Linked DNA regions of Homo sapiens: region 2 is linked to region 1. The links come from fine-mapping of genetic effects on gene expression. Tissue or cell type: subcutaneous fat. Region 1 holds a variant in brackets; the other region holds the start of a gene. All regions are shown on one strand. Distances are from middle to middle.

Region 1 (11,007 bases):
AACTCATCAGAACTAGCAATCAAAAATTAATTCCTTGTTTTATTTTGAATTTTATACTTCATTGTAATGATCGTATTGTATATTTCTGAGCATTAGGTTTGCAACAACTCATGGATAAAGTATGGATTTCTGACCTGACCTGTAAGCAAATTACTCCTCCATTCCACACCTCTTTTCTGTGAAAAGGGATGACTTAATCTCTGCCCTATTTACATACAAAGTCATGATGACAGTCATGAGAAGGAATTGGATTTGAAATGGCAATGAAAGTCAAAGTGTTATCTTTGCCAGTGTGTGGACTCAGTTTACATTAAAGTTACAGGTTCCCACCAGCTCCTCCTCTCCCCAGGAGGTCTGGTGTTCTACGTGTAATCACTCAAGGTGAACCATGACTTTCATATCAGCAGTGAAATCAGCTGCTCTAGTTATTTCCTGTTCTGGCAGCACCCTGCTGAGCATCTCGTGATTTCAGGAGAGTAGAAGCTGGGTGGTGGAGCAGTCCAGGTTTGTCTTAAAAATACAGTTCTCCAGCTGTTGTATTGGATTTCCTCTCACAGAAACCTAAGGTCGACAGAGGATTACAAATTTGCCTTTCCATAACTTGGATCCCTTGCTCTTCTCTAGGTGTCGAGATTATAACTCTCTCCTTTCCTACCTACTCCTTCCCACGACACCACTTCCTCTCACCCAGTGTGTCCAAGCTGATCAAACTGGGTGTGTCATTGTTCGCACACTTGCTGGGCCATGGGGCAGGCAAGGAGCGGCTCCTTAAACCACACCAAAGGTTTGTGGTCCAGAATTGGTCACCACCCTCAGCACCTCAGCATGCAGTGCTTTGTGGACAGACAGCGTCCTTTCTCACTCTTTTGAGTGACCCTCCCCAGCTGGCTCAAGTTGGCCTTGCAGCCTGATAGGCCTTTTAAACAAGGAAAGGAAGGTCTCTCAGCACACTTTAACTTACTAGTTATTCAGCTTATTTTCTTAATAAGCCACAAGCTCTAAGGGCTCTTCAGAACTCCTAATTTCAACACTGGAAATTATTTTCTTCTCTTTATTAAGAATTTGCAGCCAGGCGTGGTGGCTCACATCTGTAATCCCAGCACTTTGGGAGGCCAAGGCAGGTGAATCACTTGAGGTCAGGGGTTCAAGACCAGCCTGGCCAACATGTTAAAACCCTGACTCTACTAAAAATGCAAAAATCAGCCAGGCATGGTGGCACATACCTGTAATCCCAGCTATTCGGGAGGCTGAGGCAGGAGAATCGCTTGAACCAGGGAGGCGGAGGCTGCAGTAAGCAGAGATTGCACCACTGCACTCCAGCTTGGATGACAGAGCGAGACCCTGTCTGAAAAAAAAAAAAAAAGAATTTGCTACATTCCAGACACTATATTGAGTGCTTTTTATATATAAGAAGTAAAGCTTAAAGAGGTTAAGCAACATGCCCAGGGTCACCCAGGCAGTGAGCTGAAGAGGTAGGATTTGAACCCACTCTGGCTCGAGGGCCCATGTCTCACCCTAGCTCAGGCTCCTGAACCTCCCAATTTTTCCCCATCAAGCTGGGCACATGAGCCCTCAAGGACAGCTTTGCAAAGCACCATGCAAAGTGCTTGAGGCAAATACGAGTGTCACTTGGTGCAGACACCCTCAGGCCAAGGTCAACAGCCACATAGGCTCCCCACTCTCCAAACGGGAGAGGTGCGCTAGGTCTGGAGTTCAGCTGGAAACACGTGGGCCTGTGCTCCAGCAGAGGGCTCCCATCACCTCTCTGCTCTCTTTTTTTATGAAGCAAGGGTGACAGCGCCTCTGTTTTGCTTCTTGAACCGGCCATTCCAGTGCTCATTTAGATGCACCGGTAATGGTTCATAGGAGTGTAGAATATCCAGCAAATTCCACGATGCTGGGTGTGGTCATGGGAGGCAGTGGTCATAAATGAAGTTCTTGCTGTGGGATTGTCAGGGAATCCAGCACATGACAAAGGGAGTTATCCATGATCATAGTAGTCTGTGATCATTCCCTTGGAAGAGACAGACAACTTCATGCCTTGAGAATGTTTTCAAGAAAGTGAAGTTCCCTAATCGGGGGCAGGGAGCCTATAAAGTTAGCCTTCTAGTTGTGGGCCATGCCACATCCTGGTGGGATGCAGCCCAGCTCACTCAAACCACATGCCGCTTAGCTGGTAAGCAGTCCATCTCTGTGTCACATAGATTCCCTGTTGGGCTTCCCAGTCCTTGGTGGCTGTTTCATGACTGTGCTGAGTCCTGCAGGCCTCTATGGTCTGTTGTATAATATTATGGCTCCTGCATCCAGAGGCTTCTTGGGCTTCTTCATTCCAAATGCTTTTCTCAGAAGCTGTCTTTTCTGTGCGGCACAGTCCCACACTGCTAGCTGAGAGGATGGGGACTGTGAGCACCTGCTAACTCTTCTATCCCTAGTCCCAGCCTGTGGAAGTGATGGCCCTGGTGTTTTCTCTAGCAGAGTATACCAACGTGGAATGAATGATGCCTGACTAGGCCTGCAGAAGGGGTCAACCAGGCCCTTCAGGGTGGTTTATTTCATTTTGGAAGGAGGAGGAGAGACCCTAATTGTTCAGGTGTAGACACATCTGATACTGGGAAATGGGTGATGTGGGAGTAAATCTCTCTCTCTCTCTCTTTCTCTCTCGGTGGGGCAGGCTCTCACTCGGTTGCCTTGCTGGGGTGCAGTGGCACCATCTCAGCTCACTGCAGCCTGGACCTTCGGGCTCAAGTGATTCTCCCACCTCGGCTACCTGAGTAGCTGGGACTACAGGTGTGCCACCACGCCCAGCTAATTTTTGTCAAATCTCTCTCTTCTTTGAGGTCTGAGTATGACAGGACAATGGCCTCCATTGATGAGCCACTGGGGCCAGAGAGCAGAACCATGCAGCTGAGAAGGACCGTCAGATGAGTGACCTCTGGAGCTCTCTGGACAGCCTGGAAGAGTGGCTTCTTTCTTCCAGGGAGAAAGCCTCAGTCTCTCCTGGACTGGGCCCCAAACTCTCTGCACTTCACACTGGACTGGCCCTGAACTCTCCAGGTGTTAAGGAGCTGACATTTTCCCCCAACTCTCTAAACATCTGGTCTCTAAGCTTAGACTACCTGACACCTAAATCTATAATGTTTATTTATCCTGAGCAAAACCTCTCTCATACTAGCCCCTCTGCAACAGCAGACAGCTGCCTCACTGGGGAAGCTCCACAGTGCATGACCTCTGTGGGATGCTAAGAGGATGGGACTATAGCCACCTGCTGACCCTCAGACCATTACCAATTGTATTTGCTGATGTTCTTCCTGAGCCACTCTGAGTGACAAAAAATATTTAAGGTTGAGGAAAGAAGCCTTTGACATTATTTAACTATGCTCCAATGGACCTCTGCCCTAAACACCAGACTCAGACCCAGCTGCCTACTGGGTGGCAGTAGGATCTCCATTTGGAGATGTTTACTGGGCATCTTTGGCCTAATGCAGGCCTATCTCCAGCCTCTGTCCAGCCTGCTCCTTCCCTGTCTTTCCCATCTCAGCAAACGGGACCTTCTCCTTTCCATTTTCTCAGGCCGTGCTCGACCTTGTCATTTTTCCCTTGACTTCTCTCATTCTGTCACGCCTGTCATCCAACCCGTTGGGAGAGCAGATAAGATTGATCCAGGATATATATGAAGTATTGGCCACTTCTCATCACCTTCTGGCTACCAGCAGAGCCTTTGCTGGTCTATATTGTGTTGCTTTTCTACAATTTAGAAAAACATCACCCCCATGACTGAATGGGTGGCAGAGCCTTTGAGTAGAGAACGATACTCCTTCCTTGGATGGCTGAAGCCCCACAGTTAGACTCTGGGCTGATGCTCAGTGCCCTGACTAGACTCCAGCCCCACCTATCCATGAGGCTGGTGCCTTGCTCCCTGCATCACCTGCACAATCATGCGCAGTGAGCTGAGCAGGCCACGCTGGTGCAGACCTGCTGTCTCACTCACCTAGACCATTGCAGTCAGCTCTAAGGTCTCCGCTTTTACCCTTGCCCTACCACCTTTCAGTCTGTTCTCAATGCGAGGCCACAGCGATCTTTTATTATTTTATTATAATAATAATAATAATTATTGAAACAGAGTCTCTCTCTGACACCCAGGCTGGAGTACAGTGATGTGATTGTGGCTCACTGTAGCCTCAAACTCTTGGGCTCACACATTCCCCCCATCTCAGCCTCCTGAGTAGCGGCGATTACAGGTGTATGCCATCCTACCTGGCCAATTTTTTTCTTTTCTTTTCTTTTAGAGATGGGGCCTCAACTGTGTTGACCAAGCTGTTTAGAATTCCTGGGCTCAAGTCATCCTCCTCAGCCTCCCAAAGTGCTGGGATTACAGGCATGAGCCACCATGCCCAGCCTGATTATTTAAAAGTATACATCAAATCAAGGCACTCCTCTGCTGTAAACCTCACTCTAAGCAAAAGCCAAAGTTCCAGCAAAGTCCTATGAAGCCCCATACAATTCGTCCCCTATTACCTTGTTGACCCATCTCTTGTTATCTTCCCCTTCCTCCTTTTGCTGTGAACACAAGACCTCCTTGGGGTCTCTTGAAGTGCTAGGCCTCCTCTCACCTCTGGCAGAGCTCTTGCACTCACACCTCCATCTGCTGGAAGGTTCTCCCACATAGGTTTACCTGGCTCATTCTCAACCTGGCTTAGGTCTTTACTCAAATGTCACCTATTCTGTGAAATGTCACCTTCGCTGTCCAACTATTTAAAAATGCAATCTCCCTCCCCTCTCCCCTCAATCTGACATTTCTTTCACCCCTTCCCGTAGCACTTTTTCTTTTTCTCCACAGCCCTTACCACCATCTAACACGTTACATTTATTTCACTTATTTATTTTCTTGTCTCTTTCCTCATTAGAACAAGCTCCACAAAAGCAGGCGTTTTCATCTGTCTTCTTGTTGGCTGTGTTCTCAGCACCTAGAGCACTGCCTGATCCCTAATAGGTGAACGGTTCCTTTATATTTGTTGAATGAATGAGTGGCAGGAGGCAGAGTGGGTCTATTATGTGGAAATATATGAGATTGTTCTTGCCAGTCAAAAGCTGTCAAATATTGGCAGCTTCACGTGGTTCAAATTAATGTAACGTAATACAGAACAATGGCCAAAAGGAGGTGTTACGTGAGGGACATTTGCTCCTGATTTGCTCAGTGTGCTCCTTCCTGTTGGAAAACATGAGATTCTTTTATAATCCCCTGGGAACGAATTTCCCATATAAATAGACATTTCCCTTCCTGAGCCCATCATTCACAGAGCAGCCTTCTTCCAGGTAGAGCACCAGCAGTAATAATGCCCGTCTTGGCCTTCAGGCCTCCAGATATAAATTTTTTGGCTATGGGACAATTTTTTTTGGCTATGGGACACTTAGAAAAAATAAAGATCAATAGACTATCAAACTGTAGCCAGACATCAGATCCAATGCCAGGGACCTTGGCAAAGGTGACATCAGTAACGAGAGGAGGTGCCTCCAACTGACTGCTCAGGGCTGGGAGGAACAAGCCTCTGTGGTCTGAGCCCAGGAGCCTGCACCCCATCCACTGGGCTCACACAGAGTGTTCAGAGCCCAGAAATCTCTTCCTCTGCCAGGTCTGCCTCTGCTGAGCTTGCAAAAAGGCATAGTCCTATTGCACAAAT[C/CT]TTTTTTTTTTCTTTTCCTTTCTGTTTTTTTTCCATATACCCAAGGGAATGGGAATAAAACCTTAATTTTGTGCCTTGTAAATACAGCTTTTAAAAAGATATAGACTATTAAAATCCAAATAAAAAAGATCTTTACGTTTGGTGTCTCCAAATGCTATATTCCAGGACGTACATGCTGAGGCATCTGTCAGTCAAGACCACAAGATACAGCCATCCGGCCTATGCACTTAGTATTTGCTAAAAGCGTGGTTACTGGTTGAGTGCGTCTGCAACACGGGGGCCCACGTTCAAATGCCTGCACGAGCCAGGTGGGAAATACAAGCGAGTGAAACTGGCTGACTCACGGCCACAAAGAAATGTGTTTCCTCCCAATCTGCTTGACTTCAGGCCATCTTTTTTTCCCCTCACTTTTGGTTAAGATGTGGGTACAAAAAGTATTATGCTTTTCTTCTTAAATCTATTAGAAGGAAAATATCAATACAAGTGTGACCACAATAGCACCTGGCACAGTCTCCCAGGAATGTAAAGGTTTGTGCCAATTTAGGGCACTTGATCTGCCTCAGAGGGTCTGCCTCTGCGGAGCTTCCATCTGCTGATTAACAGGGCATCACCCTACTTCACAAAGGCCTGTGTTCAGAGAAACCTCCCCCGGCTTTGTGCCATGGCCAGGGACCTCCTGACAAAGGTAGACCCTCACCTTCTGACTCTCCTGGAGTCTGTTCTTCACTCTGACCCAAACTATGTCAAGTTCAGAAAACTGATTTCTGCCTCTCCCTCCATCCATTTATCTGATGCTCATCCGTGAGGCAGCTGGAATAGGATTGCTCCATTCCCCTGCCCAGGCATTGTTTTAAATCCCTGCAGAAAACAACAGCTACAACCATCATGGTAATGAGGGATGACGGTGACAACCACAACCTGGAGAGCTCGATGGAGAAGGAGAGGGAGAGATCTGGTGACAAGTGACTCTCTTCAGCAGATCTAATCACTCCTAGAAAGATGTGACTGCCTTTTCATGCACAGCATCACTTAAAAGTTCTAGAGAACTAGGCAAGGGGTAGGGGAAATGCAGCTGAAGTACATAGAAAAAAGTCTGCTGGAAATTTGAAATGATACTGAGTACAATGTACATCAGAAAGATTAAATGGAAATAAGGCAAAAGTAGGAAAGTTTCAGTCAAAGTTGAAGGCTTGAGTTTTAGCTGGATGTGGTCTTGAGGAAATGCAGGTTCAGTGGGACTACATCATCGGATGTTTCACGAAGCAGGAATTCTGCTTTGGAAAACCAAACCAGCCAATAAGCAAATGAAAAGATGCTTAACATCATTAGTCATCAGGGAAATGCAAATCAAAACCCCAATGAGATAATAACATTTCATCCTAACCATCCACTAGAATGGCTAAAATAAAAAAAGACTGATGATAACAAGTGTTGGGGAATACGTGGAAAAAAATGAAACCCTCATACATTTCTGGTGGAAATGTAAAATGGTGCAGCTACTTTGTAAAACATTTTGGTGGTTCCTCAAAAATTTAAACATAAAGTCACCATATAACCCAGAAATTCCACTGCTATGCCCATACCCAAGAGAGATGATTTTTTAATAAAAAAAAAACTTGCTTATTCAATTGAAAATAATTTTTAATAAAAGCAATGATAATGCCATTTTGTCAGGGGAAGATAATAGTTTATAAAACTTGTGCACAAGGCCAGGCATGGTGGCTCACACCTGTAATTCCAGCACTTTGAGAGGCTGAGGCAGGAGAATCACTTGAGCCCAGAAGTTTGAGACCAGCCTGGGCAACATAGTGAGACTCCAATCTTTATAAGTAATATAAGTAAACATAAGTAAATAAATAAATAAATAAAATTTAAAAAACTTGTGCACAAATGTTCATAGCATCATTTTTCATAATAGCCAAAACCTGGAAACAATCCAAATGTCCATCCACTAAATGAACAGATAAACAAAATTTGATCTATCCACACAATGGAATATTATTTGGCCATGAAAAGAAATAAAGTTCTGATACATGCTGCAATATGAATGAAACTTCAAAACATGCAAAGGGAAAGAAGCCGGTCACAAAAGACCACATATTACAGTATATGACTTCATTATGTGAAATGTCCAGAACAGACACCTTTGTCCATACACAAATCTATAGAGACATAAAGTGGTTGCCTAGTGCTGGGGAAAATGAGGAGGGTCTGCTAATGGGTATGGAGTTTCTTTTGTGGAAGATGAAAGTGTTCTACAGTTGATTGTGGCAATGGTTGCACAACTCTGAATGTACTAGATCACTGAATTGTACACTTTGATGGGTGAATTGCATGGTATGTGAATTATGTATCAATACAGCTCATAAAAAACAAGCAGTCAGGTGAAGAACAAACATGAGAAACTGTCTTCAAATGCAGATAACAGTAACAGAGATGACAAAATGAAAGACAAGGAAGTGACAGAGTGGAGAGCTAACATGCAGATAACTGATGCTCCTGAAGAAGATCCTAGAGCCAGTGGGCTGCAAATCAGAAATAAAGATATAAGAAACTCCCCCTGCACTGATTCCTTGCAAAATCACTCAGACACATCGACACCTAGACACATCCAACCCTTACAAATGCCCAATAAACACATTAAAAAATAACTTTAGTTCCACTATTTAATAAAAAAAGTATTTGCTTATTCAACTGAAAATGATTTATAATAAAAGCAATGATAATGCCAACTGTTAGTGAGGCTCTGAGGGAACTGGGCCCTACATATATTGTTAATGGAAACATAAACCGTAGAACTTTTTCATGTTTGTTCTTCACCTGACTGCTTGTTTTTTTATGAGCTTTATTGATACATAATTCACATACCATGCAATTCACCCATCAAAGTGTACAATTCAGTGATTTAGCAATTTGAGAGCACATAGCAAACCTTAGTATAAGTATATTCTTATTCACTTTCCCAGCATTTCTATCTCTAAGAATTCCCCCTGAGGGGGGAAAAGGACTAGATTTATCCAGATATTTAGCTATAAGAATATTATGAAAATTTATGCATATCTCCAATGCTCAATGACACAGGGATTTGTTAAATTAATTTTGCTCTCATCATATAATTAAAAATCATGAGGCCACTGATGATGTTTTGGAAAAATGCTTAATGACAGATACTTTTTCATGACTTTTTTTTGTTAAAGGAAGATAACGGTTTATAAGACAGCATATGCACCATTTAAAAAATTTACAATACATGCATACATACATATATTACATGTACACATGAGTAGAAGGTGAGGGAGAAGTAGGAAACCAAGAATGGGAAAAGTTCTTATTACACATTAAGTGGTAACAATGATTTTTATTTTCTTTTTGCTTTTAAAACACTTGTATGGTGATTATGCACGGACTTCTGTAATGGTAAAAATAATAACGAAAGATGTTTTAAGAGTTCTCCAGGCTGGACACAGTGGCTTATGTCTGTAATCTCAGCACTTTGGAGGCCAAGGCAGAAGGATCACTTGAACCCAGGAGCTTGAGACCAGCCTGGGCAACATAGTGAGACCCCCATCTCTACAGAACGAGTTTTTAAAAAATTAGCCGGGCATGGTAGTGAAAGCTTGCAGTCCCACCTGCTCCATAGGCCAAGGCGTGAGGATTGCTTAAGCCCAGGAGGTTGAGGCTGCAGTGAGCCATGATTGTGTCACTGCACTCCAGCCTGGTTGACAGAGTGAGACCCTGTCTCAGAAAAAAAAAAAAAAAAAGTTCTCCTCAGGCTAGAGTCCAACCCTTCAGCAAGTGCATCAGACCCTGGCCCCAGCAGCTCCTGCAACTTCAACTAGTGGGTATGGGGCATCTTTGGGGGCCATACATCATTTCTGATACTTCCCTAAATGGGGGCCGTATTTGTGTTTTCACAGCGATCTGCCATTTCATTTGCCTGGAGCGTTCTCCTCTCACTCCCCCACCTGGCTTCCTGACTATTGTCTCATGGGTCGCCTTTCCTGGGATGCCACCCAAGCAGAGGGAACCATTTCCTGCTCCCACTTTACCCTGTGCATGCACTATTTTTGTATCTTGCACGGCAAGTTTACACTTCTCTCTCATGACTCATTGGAGGATTAGGCTGGGTTCTTAATCATCCTTCTTGTTTAATCAGCATCCAACGCAGGCCTGTACAAATGTTTATGGAGTAAACGAGTGAATGAATGAATGAGTCTGTTTGAGCTCTAGGCTCACATGAGCCTTGAGTGCAGAAGATCTGCACTCAAGTGCCCCTTGGGTCCCTAAATCAACATGCCCCAAACTAAGCCCACCGTTTTCTCCTTGTTCCTCATTACCAATCCTCACTGTTTTTGTGCGTGCCCCATCTCTGTGATTGGAACTACACCCTTCCAGTGACGAGCTGGGATCTTGGGTGCCTCTTTTTTCTGCTGTAATAATTCTCCTGGGGCTATCAATTCTGTCACTCACATGACTCCTGTGTTGTTTTCCCTTCTTTCCATGCCCATGCTGCCGACCTCTCTCCCTCACTCTTCCTCTCTCTTAGATATCTGCCACAGCCTCCTCACCCCTATCCTGTTGAAAACTCCCTAGTGACCTCCGTTTTCCCCAGGATACAGTCAGAACTCTTTGTCAAGGTTTACCTGCCCTGTGTGATCCAGCCCTGCTCAGCCCTGACTATCTCTCCAGCTTCGTTTCTCCTCAGCCCCACCCCTTTCATCCTTCTTAGGAGCGACCTGAAGAACTTTCTTCTCTCCGTGCCTCATTCATATTGTTGGTTTTGTCTGGAATCCTTTTTCCAACCCCCTTGCCTCCCTAACTCATTTGTCAAGCCTTACTTTAAAAGACACTTCTTCCAGGAACCCTTCCTTCACTCCCCAAGTCCAGTTAGGCCCCTCGCATATACACCCCCCCTAGCTCCCTACACTTTCCCCAACATAGCTCTCTCACACTGTATTTAATCGTTCACTTAATTGTTCTTCTCCCCCAACAGACTGTAAGAGACAACAGCCGGTGTCAGGGCGGTGAGGTGGGGAAGCAGAAAACACGTCTGCTTGTTCACGAACGTTCTTCCAATGTCCAGCAAAAATTTGGTCCTTAATAAATCCGCTTATCATTCAACAAGCCAACAGATGGAACAATGTTTGCTTGCGCTACTGCAGATGCTAATTCAAACTTTGGGACCAGGCAAGGCATTTGGCTCTTCATTTTATGAAGATCAGAGAGAGGGAGCGCAGTACCCAGTTGACTGACCGAGAGAGAGCTCTGTGGTGGGGGAAGGCTGCTGTGTTGGGCCCTTGTGGGGAGTGTGCTTTCCATCTGATTGCCT
Region 2 (11,007 bases), 83 kb before region 1:
CTCATCAATTCTAGAGGCTATGAATTTTATCACAATCATTCATATCAAACCAGTATTGTTTTTTATTTTTGAGTAGAGACAAATGCAGTCAGGAAGACATATGCTACATGGAATGACAAATGAACGTTTTGTATCTTGTGCCTAGCTCTGTTGTAAGTTCTTAGATTCTCAAACTCACTTGATAATAATAATTGCCTGGAGCTGGGTGCAGTGGCTCACACCTGTAATCCCAGCACTTTGGGAGGCCAAGGTGGGAGGGTTGCTTAAAGCCAGGAGTTCGAGACCAGCCTGAGCAACATAATGAGGCCACATCTCTACAAAAAAACCTGAAAAACTTAGCTGGGCATAATGGCATGCACCTGCAGTCATAGCTACCCTGAAAGGCTGTGGTGGGAGGATGGCTTGAGCCCAGGAGGTTGAGGCTGCAGTGAGCTATGATTGTGCCACTGCACTCCAACCTGGGTGACAGAGTGAGACCCTGACTCTAAAGAAAGAAAATCACTTGGGGTGCTGCTTAAACATTTAGATTTCTAGGCCCCTTCCCTTGGTTTGAAGTGGGACTTAAGAATCAGTAGGTTCAACTACCACTCCAGATAATTCATATAATCAGGCAAGTCTGAAAAACATTGCAGAATAGGATGCAAAAATGAATGAGACATAGCTCCTTCTCAGAAAGAGTGCAAGATGGAAAGCAAATTGGTGCACAAAAGTGCATTTAAAGAGAACCAACAAGACGTAAGGAAGACATGAAAACCATTGGAGGAATTAAGGAGTGCCTCCTGGAAGAAATGACATGTGAGCAAAGTCTCAAGATTAGTTACGACCCCATACGAGGCCAGATATAGAAAGAATCACCAAGGAATAGTAATAGCTGGCATTTCTCAGGTGCCTGCTAGGTGCCAGGCATTGTGCTAAGCATTTAACCCACCATATTTTATTTAATCCTCACCACAACCTTATGAAGTAGAAGCTATTGTAATTCCTAATTTCAAAAGAGAAAGGCTAGGTTTTGGTTACCACACTGCCCAAGGTGACACCGTTCACATGTGCAGAGCTAGGTAGAAAGGAGGCGGTACTCCTTATCTTATGCTCTTTCCCACTGTCCTCTTCCACCTTCCAGGTGACATGAGCCTCAGAGATGTGTAACAGCTGTGACATTTTTGCAAATGACAGGAGAAAGTGTCCAGGGAGGTATATGGGCCAGGGGAAGAAACTGCATGAAGTATTGGAACTTGGCAGTGATTTCCTAGTGCAAGCTCAACTCATTCATTTTGTAAATGAGGAAAGAGAACCCCAGAGAAGGTATATGACTTGCCTAAAGTCATATACATTTTGTACCTTTAGTATATTTTGATAGTGGCAAAATGTACTAAAGATCCAGATCCCAGGCAGCACTCTCTTTCCACTACAGAAAACTGGAGGCCAACATCGTATAGGCCTTTGTGGATGCCTTGCTAAGGAAGTCCGAGCTATGCTATAGGAGATACATTCAGTCATGGGCTACATAATGACGTTTTGATCAAAGATGAACCACATATATGATGGTGGTGCCATAAGATTATAATACCATATTTTTACTGTACCTTTTCTATGTTTAGATATGTTTACCATTATATTACCATTGCCTATAGTATTCAGTATAGTAGCATACTGTTCCAATTTGTAGCCTAGGAGCACTAGGCTATACCATACAGACTAGGTGTATAGTAGGTTATACCATCTAGGTTTGTGTTAAGTACACTCTATGATAGTCACACAATGAAATTGCCTAATGATGCATTTCTCAGAACATATCCTCATTGCTAAGTGATGCATGGCTGCATATGTAAAATACACATAACATAAAATTCACCATGTTAACTGTTTAAGTTACAATTCAGTGACATTAATGCATTGACAATGTTGTGCAACCATCACCACTATCCATTGCCAGAACTTTTTCATCATCCCAAACGGAAACTCTGAACCCATCAGATAATAATCTCCTATTCCCCCTCCCCCTCATCCCTTGGTAACAATCATTCTACCTTCTGACTTTATGAATTTGCCTATTTTAGGTATCTTATATATGTGGAATCATTCAATATTTGTTTTTTATGATAGGCTTATTTAATTTAGCATCATGTTTTCAAGATTCACCCATGTTGTAGCATGTGTCAGTACACCATTCCTTTTTTCCCCATTTTCTCATTGTGGTAAAGTGAAAAAAAATATTTACCATTGTAACAGTTTTTACATATACAGTTCAGTGGTATTAAGTACATTCAGATTGTTGTGCAACCATTACCACTCTCCATCTTCATAATTATTTTCATTTTGCAAAACTGAAACTTTGTACCAATTAAACAATAGCTCCCCATTCCTTCTTCCCCAAGACCTAGGCAACCATCATCCTACTTTTTGTCTCTATGAATTTGACTACTCTAGCTACCTCATGTAAGTGGAATCATATAGTATTTGTCTTTTGTGACTGGCTTATTTCACTTAGCACAATGTCTTCAAGGTATATCCGTGTTGTAGCATGTGTCAGAATTTCATTCCATTTGAAGGCTGAATAATATTGCATTCTGTGTATATACGCACACACATACACATGAAGGGGCTTCAAAAATTTGGGGAGCATGCATATTATGAAAAAAGTAAGCATGGATTTCAATTTTTGTTTGCACCCAAATAAACTCGTACTCATTTGTTACAACATGTCTGAACAGGATCTAGTTTGAGTCACTAAGAAGGATAAGATATCAGTTTGAAAAGAGCCCCTCTCAGAGGAACATGAATTCTGAAAAATTGAAGCAACGGCAAACATGAAATTTATGGTGAAGCTTGGGTGGAAGAATGGTGAAATCACTGATACTTTACGAAGAGCTTTTTGTGGGCAATGACCCAAAGATATCAGCGGTTTACAAGTGGATACTCATTTCAGGAAGGGACGAGAGGATGTTGAAGATGAAGTCTGCAGCAGCAGACCATCCACATAATTTGTGAGAAAAAAATTAACCTTATTCATGCCCTAATTGAAGAGGACTGATGATTAACAGCATAAACATAACCAACACCACAGACACCTCAGTTGGTTGAACTTACTCATTTCTGACTGGCAGATTAAAGTTGAGCACACTTTCCACTTGATGGGTGCCAAAATTGTTGTGACCAGATCAGCTGTAGACAAGAATAGAGCTTTCAATGGAAATACGAAACAAGCGGGATCAAGATCATGAAAGATTTCTTTGAAGAACTGTAATAACAGAAAAAACAGGCTTTACAAGTGTGATCCAGAAGACAAAGCACAATCAAAGCAATGGCTACCAAGAGGTGGAAGTGGTTCAGACAAAGCAAAAGCAAACTAATCAAGAGCAAAGGTCATAGCAATAGTTTTTGGGGGATGCTCACAGTATTTTGCATGTGATTTTCTGTAGAGGGCCAAAGAATGAAATATCTGCTTATTATGAGGGTATTTTGAGAAATTAGCCAAAGCTTTAGCAGAAAAAATGCCTGAAAAAGCTCCACCAAAGAGTCCTTCTCCACCATGACAATACTACTGCTCATTCCTCTAATTGAACAAGGGCAATTATTAGCCATCCTTCTTACCATCCTGATTTGGCTCTTTCTGACTTCATTTCCTAATCTTAAAAAGTCTTTAAGGAGCAGCTATTTTTCTTACGTTAATAATGTAAAAAAAAAGGGCTTCATTGACATGGTTAAGTTCCCAGGACCCATGCCAGGCCTGGTGGCTCATGCTTGTAATCCCAGCATTTTGGGAGGCTGAGGTGAGAGGATTGCTTGAGGCCAGGAGTTTGAGACCAGCCTGAGCAACCTAGCCAGACCCTGTTTTAACAAAAAAATAAAAATAAATAAATAAAATAGAAAAATTCCCAGGATCCTTAGTCCTTTAGAGATGGACTAAATGTCTGCCATCATTACAAAAGCATCTTGAACGTGATGGAGCTTATGCTGAGAGCTAAAGTTTATGTATTTTTATCTTTTAATTCCATTTTCCCACAAACTTTTGGAAGTTCCCATGTGAGTGTATGTGTGTATGTGGAGCATTTTGTTTGTCCCTTCATCATTGATGGACATTTGGATTGTTTCCATGTTTTCGCTATGGTGAATAATGCTGCTATGAACATGGATGTACAAACATGCCTTTGAGACCCTGTGTATTAGTTCACTTGCACACTGCTGATAAAGACATACCGGAAACTGGGAACAAAAGGAGGTTTAATTGGACTTACAGTTCCACATGACTGGGGAGGCCTCAGAATCAAGGCAGGAGGTGAAAGGCATTCCTTACGTGGTAGCATCAAGAGGAAACTGAGGGAGAAGCAAAAGTGGAAACCCCTGATAAACCCACAGGATCTCGTCAGGCTTATTCACTATCACGAGAATAGCATGGGAAAAACAGGCTCCCATGATTCAATTACCTTCCCCTGGGTCCCTCCCACAATACGTGGGAATTCTGGGAGATACAATTCAAGTTGAGATTTGGGTGGGGACACAGCCAAACCGTATCACCCTGCTTTTAATTTTTTGGGTTAGACACCCGGAAGTGGAAACACTCGATCATATGGTAATTGTATTTTTTAACTTTTTGAGGAAACCCTATACTGTTTTCTACAGTGGCTTCACCATTTTACTTTCCTACCGACAGTGCACAGGGTTCCAGTTTCTCCACATTCTCACCAACACTTGTTATCATTTCTTTTTACAGCTGGATAATATTCTATTGCATGTATATACTATATGTATTTTGTTAATCCACTTAGCTGATGGACATTTGGGTTGTTTCTGTCTTTTGGCTACTGTGAATAGTGCTGCCATGAACATCAGTGTATGTGTGTCCCTGCTTTCAATAGTTTGGGGTTACATACCTTGGAGTGGGATTGCGGGACTATATGCCTCACGTTTTGAGGAATCTATGGGCTTGTAAAGGTAGACTGTGCTCTGTAAGTCAGCGCTGTCCGTCCCAGCCTTCTAAGCAGACATCCCTGGGCGGGGGTCCTTCCTCTCTCCAGTGTGCTACCCCGCCCCCTTGTTTGCTCTCCAGAAAGCACTTCTCTGAGCCTCTTTTACGGAGAGGTAGGGCAGCTGGCAACAAAGATGGCCCTGGTGTCCGTTCAGGCTGGCCCAGGGGACCAGGTTGGGGCCGGCCCCTGAGTGTCCCCTGAGGAGGTGTGTGAGCAGCGGGGGAGGCTCCTCGGTCCTTTGCAAGCTCGCGGCTGAGCGGGGCCGTGTCCGTCCACTCCGACGGCGCTGGGCTGCCAAGGTGAGCCGCCGAGGAGCCCCGTGCCCCGAGGCGGGCACAGCCGCCCTGCATGGGTGCCCCCGGCGCGGGATTGACGCAGAGCCCTGCCCGGAGCCCCAGCGACCCCGTTCCTGCCCCAGGCGGCCGTTCCGAAGCCTGAGCCGGGCAACGCGCAGCCCGCCTGGCCCGGCTCCCTCCCGCGCGTCCTCGTCGCGAGCTGCCGCCTGGGAGCTCCAGACGCTCCCGCCCAGGGCGATCCGGACGCTCCCGCCCAGGGCGATCCCGGCCTCTGCAGCCCAGCTGGCGACACGCCTCGCCAAGAGCCCGCACCTCGGCGCCTCACGGCCACCGGAGGCGGGGACAGGGAGTCCGGCGCGGGCCGGGTCGGGGGATCTGCAGCGGCGGCGCGAAGGTAACTCCCCCGCCAGAGCCGGGAAAGAGCCCCGAGCAGAGGAGGAAGGGAGCGGGGACCTGCCCTTCGCCTGCCGGCTTCTGGAAGAAGCGTCTCCTGATCCGGCCCCGGAATAAGAAACCCGGACCTTGCCTGCCGGGCTCCGCGATGCCGCAGGTACAGAGCGCGCCCTCCCGGGGAGGATGCTCCAGGGACCCCGCGCTGCACTGGCTGCGGCCGTGGGGTGCGGCGGCTTCTGAGTGAAGAGGGGACTTTGCCAGGGATTCACTCCTGTGAGTTTCTTCAGGAGAGCCAGGCTTCCCCTCCTCTGTCCTTAGGGGAAGCTGCCCAGGCTCCAGGGAGAAAGTTGGGAGCAGGCGGGGGACTTGCCAGCAGGGGTTTGTGAGAGAGGCTTCTAGCGATCGAGAGGTCACCAGGTGGGGGTAGGATTGGGGTTCCCCTCTGAACGGTGAGAATAAAGGAGAAAAGACCTCTGGACAATCATCCTTAATCTCGTGACGCCCTCCTCTCCACCCCCGAAGCTTCTGTATTCTTTGCTTTTAAACACTACTTTGACCCTTCAGGTAGCATGCTTGTAGGGGTACCCCTCCAGGAGTGGCATGCCTCTGCGACCCACGGGACCTGCAAGGAGTGGGGCTTGTCCCGCCTGGGTTCCAAGCCTGCCCCCCTCCTTCTTTTCAGCTGAGTTCTGCCTCTCCTCCCTGAGTGGGCAGAGGGCAAGGGCTGAGCCAGACAGAATTGAGAGCTCGGAGGAAGGAAAAAATCAGGGTAAGGAGTTAGGACAGAGAGGCAGCAATGGGGCTGAGCCTCACTGGGGCGCAGAGGGACTTTAAACTTGGCCCCAAGAAGACAGGCTCCAGATGTTTTGCCTCGGAGGAATATGGAGAGCAGGCTTTCCTGGGGGTGGGGAGGTGGGGTCCTGGGCATCTTCCTCATCTTCCTTTCCCAGGAAAACTCTGGCTTGCATTCTTCCCTCTGTTCTCCTGACATTTGTTTTAGGGTGCTCTCCAGACCTCAGCCCTCCTTCTACGTCCCACTCCCTGGTCTGATGTCTTCAGGGTTTGGGAGGGACTGCAGGGAGAGAGCAGGGGACAGGGGGACTCTGGCTGCCTCCCTGTCCCCACCAGGGCAGCTGACACCCCCCTAGACCCCTCACCCCAGCCCCATTATGTGGTGTGGTGGAGTCCCTGTATCAGGATTTCGCTCCCCTTCCTTGCAGCTGACAGAGGAGGCCTGAGAGCGCAGTAGTAACTCCTTGCAGTTCTAGGGTGTAACACTCTCCTCCAGGGAGCTCCAGGCTGTGCAGACATTATTGATCTCCTGCCTGGCAGAAGTTGAACCTCTGAGTGTTTAAGCTATTTACCCCTGGACACTCAACCAGCCAAGGAAAAATTTTGCTCTAGCGTCCCCATTCTCATCACTTGGTTAGTCACAGGCTGTGACTTTACCCTACAGCCTCTGTCTGGGGACAGGCCTTCATAAATGCTGTTCCCAGCTTCTAGGGTCATAGCAGGTTCTAATGTGGGAACAGGAAGTCCAGCAAATAGTGAGGAAGGTGGCTGCTCTATGGCTCTGTGATTTTAGAGCCATGTTCTGCCAGAAGAGCAAGGAGAGCAGACAGGCTTGTCTGAAAGCCCTCCCTCTTAAATAGCATTTAAAGAAATTTCTTTCTCTTCAGCCTCCCCACACTCCCAACTTTTGTCCTTGAGAAAAGGTGCAACACTTCTGAGTCTTCAGTGGAACAGAAATAAACTGAGCCAGTGCTTGATTGTCTCTATAGCAATCCACCCTTCCCTAATTGAGTATGTGGTTTTCATTCATTTTCTCTCATTGGTTCCTTTATTTCCACTCCATCACCCTATGTTCACTCTGGGCAGGGAGCTAATAGGTCTGCTTAGGTTACAGGGTGGTTTTGAATTTGGCCAGCTTTACTGCAACATATAGCCAACTGTTTGTATGTCTTTCAAAGGTTTAGAATGGAGCTCAGATACCATACCCCAAAGATGCTGGCAGAGACATTCTGACTCATTAAGGGAGAGCTGGCTGATAGCAGAGAGGGGTGACATCAGCCTTGCAGACATTGCCCTGGGGAATTCTGAGCAGTGTTGCTCACAGCACCACCTGGCCAGATGGAGACCACCATGGGGTTCATGGATGACAATGCCACCAACACTTCCACCAGCTTCCTTTCTGTGCTCAACCCTCATGGAGCCCATGCCACTTCCTTCCCATTCAACTTCAGCTACAGCGACTATGATATGCCTTTGGATGAAGATGAGGATGTGACCAATTCCAGGACGTTCTTTGCTGCCAAGATTGTCATTGGGATGGCCCTGGTGGGCATCATGCTGGTCTGCGGCATTGGAAACTTCATCTTTATCGCTGCCCTGGTCCGCTACAAGAAACTGCGCAACCTCACCAACCTGCTCATCGCCAACCTGGCCATCTCTGACTTCCTGGTGGCCATTGTCTGCTGCCCCTTTGAGATGGACTACTATGTGGTGCGCCAGCTCTCCTGGGAGCACGGCCACGTCCTGTGCACCTCTGTCAACTACCTGCGCACTGTCTCTCTCTATGTCTCCACCAATGCCCTGCTGGCCATCGCCATTGACAGGTGAGTGCAGCAGCAGTGGGGACAACAAAGGCGGTCAGGGAGGAAGGGGCATTGGAATTGCCCCCTCCTGTACTGCAGTTGCAGATTGATGAGAGGTGTCTCTATTCCCCCTAGATGTGGTTGCATGGGGGACTCAAAAGCTTGCCCATTGACTGACAGTGAGAAGAGTTCTCCTTTTCCAGCTTTGTTCAGACAGAAGACAGCAGAGCCCTCTAGAGTTGGGTGATGGGAAGCTTTTGATCTCCCTTGCTATGGATGTTTTCCTAGATATTACACCTTTCAAGGTCTAGAGTAGACAGGTAAGAGGAGATATCGAGGGAAACTTTAAGCGTCAGGCAGTTACCTCTTGAGTCAATGTGGAAATCTTGAAGGAGGTTTCTATCTCATCAAGACTTCCTCTACTAAAATATGACCTTCTAGCATCATCTGTTTTTAAATAAGATTCAAGGATTTATGACTGGCTGTGGTAAACAGTTCAAGCCTATAATCCCAGCAATTTGGGAGGCCGAGATAGGAGGAGCATTTGAGGCCAGGAGTTCGAGACCAGCATGGGCAACATATCCAGACCTCACCTTTTGAAAAAATTAAAAAATTAGCTGAGCGTGGTGGTGTGTGCCTGTAGTCCTAGCTAGTTGAGAGGCTGAGGCAGGAGGATCACTTGAGCCCAGGAATTCCAGGCTGCAGTGAGCTATGTTCATGCCACTGTGCTCCAGCCTGGGTGACAGAGGGAGACCTTGTCTCTAAAAAATAAATAAATAAATAAAAATAAAAAGATTGAGGGATTTGTTTTGAAAAAAAAGGGAACATATGTTTATTTACTTTTTGTTGTTGCATTAATCACTTTGCACCTTTTAGTCCATTTGCACAGATAGTGCAGAAGACCTGTTTCTGGTGATCGCAAATAAAATCAGTAAGAGCAGCCTCTGCATATCTTTCTTCAACTTAGTCTCTTCCTTTAGTGTAAACTTGTGCTAATGGGCCAGGCTGGTCTTTGTTCCTCGGGGGACAATCTTTGCTAGCTCCTCTGCCCACAGCTGGACTGTCATTACAAAGCACCTGGTTACAGTCTAGAGACAATTATCCTGAGGATCAAATCAGGCTTCTGTGTACTTGGATCTGAACAGCCTGTCTCTCTCCTTTAACCCAGAGAGCCTGAGGCATACATGCTCTCCCTGTTCTCTGGCCTCAAGGATCTGAGGGGGTTTGACCTGGCCCTCACAGTCAGGACAGTGTTCTAGGGAGGAGCACAGCTAAGAGAGCTTGTTTTCTGAGACCGTAGGCAGGGCGACCAGGGGTGGGATGACCGAAAAGGATAACCTGAAAAAAGGGGGTTACCAAGGAACCTCTGTCTATAAAACCGCTGAGGGGTGGAAACTCTGCCTCCCTTCTCTAGGGAAGGACATCAGGAAGTTAGCAGCTTACATAGCCCTTGGTCTGTCCCCGTAGATCCTTGCAGAGTGCTACTTCTTCTTGGCCAAATTCCCTCCACTGAATCACAGAGCCCTGCAGCTTTTCATTTACCTGGAGGCCAAATTCCCTCCACTGAATCAAAGAGCCCTGCAGCTTTTCATTTACCTGGACAAGGACCCCGCATGAACCCACTGAAGGAGCAGGAGGGGAGCAGTCAAGTAGAGTATCTACTTCGTAGGTTCCTTTCAAAGCTGCCAAGGAAGAGCTCCAGGGACTTTGTCTCTGAACTTTTTTGAAAGTAGAAGCCGCCACCTTCTCTCTTAGCCCATGAACAGGACAAAGCATACAGAGTCATTTCCTGAAGTTTCATACTAGCGAGAAACTACATGTGCTCAGCTACTAAAAGCAGGGTAGGGTGCCTCCTGTGGAGTGGGACCCTACTCCCCGGATGAGATCCATTTTACCACTTGAACGGAGTAACAATGGTAGGAGGAAGTAGCTTCAAGGGGAAAGGAAGCCAGGATACACTAAGGGGCATTGGGTTATTTGGAACATGTAAGAGTGATATCTATGTCAATCAGTCAGTCTCCATCTACTGAACTTCTTCAAGCTTATAACCTCCTTTCATACCAAACAGAGCTTGTCTGAAATACTGCAAGCATTTCTCTTGCAGTGTGAGTTTACACAAAGGAAATTAGATACAATAAGAAAGATGAATTAGAAAAAATGCTTTGCACCGTGGGAGCTTCTATGGTTGAGTGGGGTTATGATAGGAAGCTTGTACCCAGACCTCAAGGAAAGCACCATGTGCCTTCACAGGGCTGCCCAATGGTCTTGGTGGATGAATGGCTGCACCAATGCCCATTCTTTTATTGATGTTTGTGATCTTTGCTGCAATTATTTTTATTTGTATGTGTTGTTACCATCTAATTGTGGTCTAGGAATCATTAATTTTTCTCTGGTCTCACGTGTTGTTCAGGATTTGATCAGTTGGGAGCAACTAATTTTTATCTTGGTTTATAACAGATCTACTTAGTTGTAAAAATGTCTTTATTTTTGCTTAATGAAATTTCTGTAGCCATGTTGGCAGTTATTCTGCCTGGGTTTAAGTACCAGCTGTATTGTGTGTTGGGTATTATGTTAGTTATTTGACCTCTCTCTGCCTCAGTTTTCTCGCCTACAAAATGAGGATAAAAAGAAAGCCTATTGTATTGGGTTGCTTTGAGGATTGAATGAAATAAATATATTTAATTTCTTAGAACAATATTCAAAACAGTAAGCAATAAATAAACAGTGGATATGATAATTCTTAAATTAACCCTTATA

The links. PIP is the estimated chance that this variant, and not a neighbour inherited with it, causes the effect.
Region 2: PROKR1 starts here. The variant in region 1 is fine-mapped to the expression of PROKR1 in subcutaneous fat (FUSION, PIP 0.93).

Annotation. Positions count from the first base shown.
Region 1 is chr2:68,721,230-68,732,236 of GRCh38, forward strand. It overlaps a transcript of ARHGAP25 not described here. Among named protein-coding and RNA genes, the nearest start is that of ARHGAP25, 8.1 kb to the right of the region's middle. The variant C/CT (reference allele first, on the strand shown) is at 5,679.
Region 2 is chr2:68,638,036-68,649,042 of GRCh38, forward strand. PROKR1 (prokineticin receptor 1) reads left to right here and starts at 5,544. Exons shown (of 3, transcript NM_138964.4): 1 at 5,544-5,813; 2 at 7,627-8,271. The coding sequence starts at 7,787.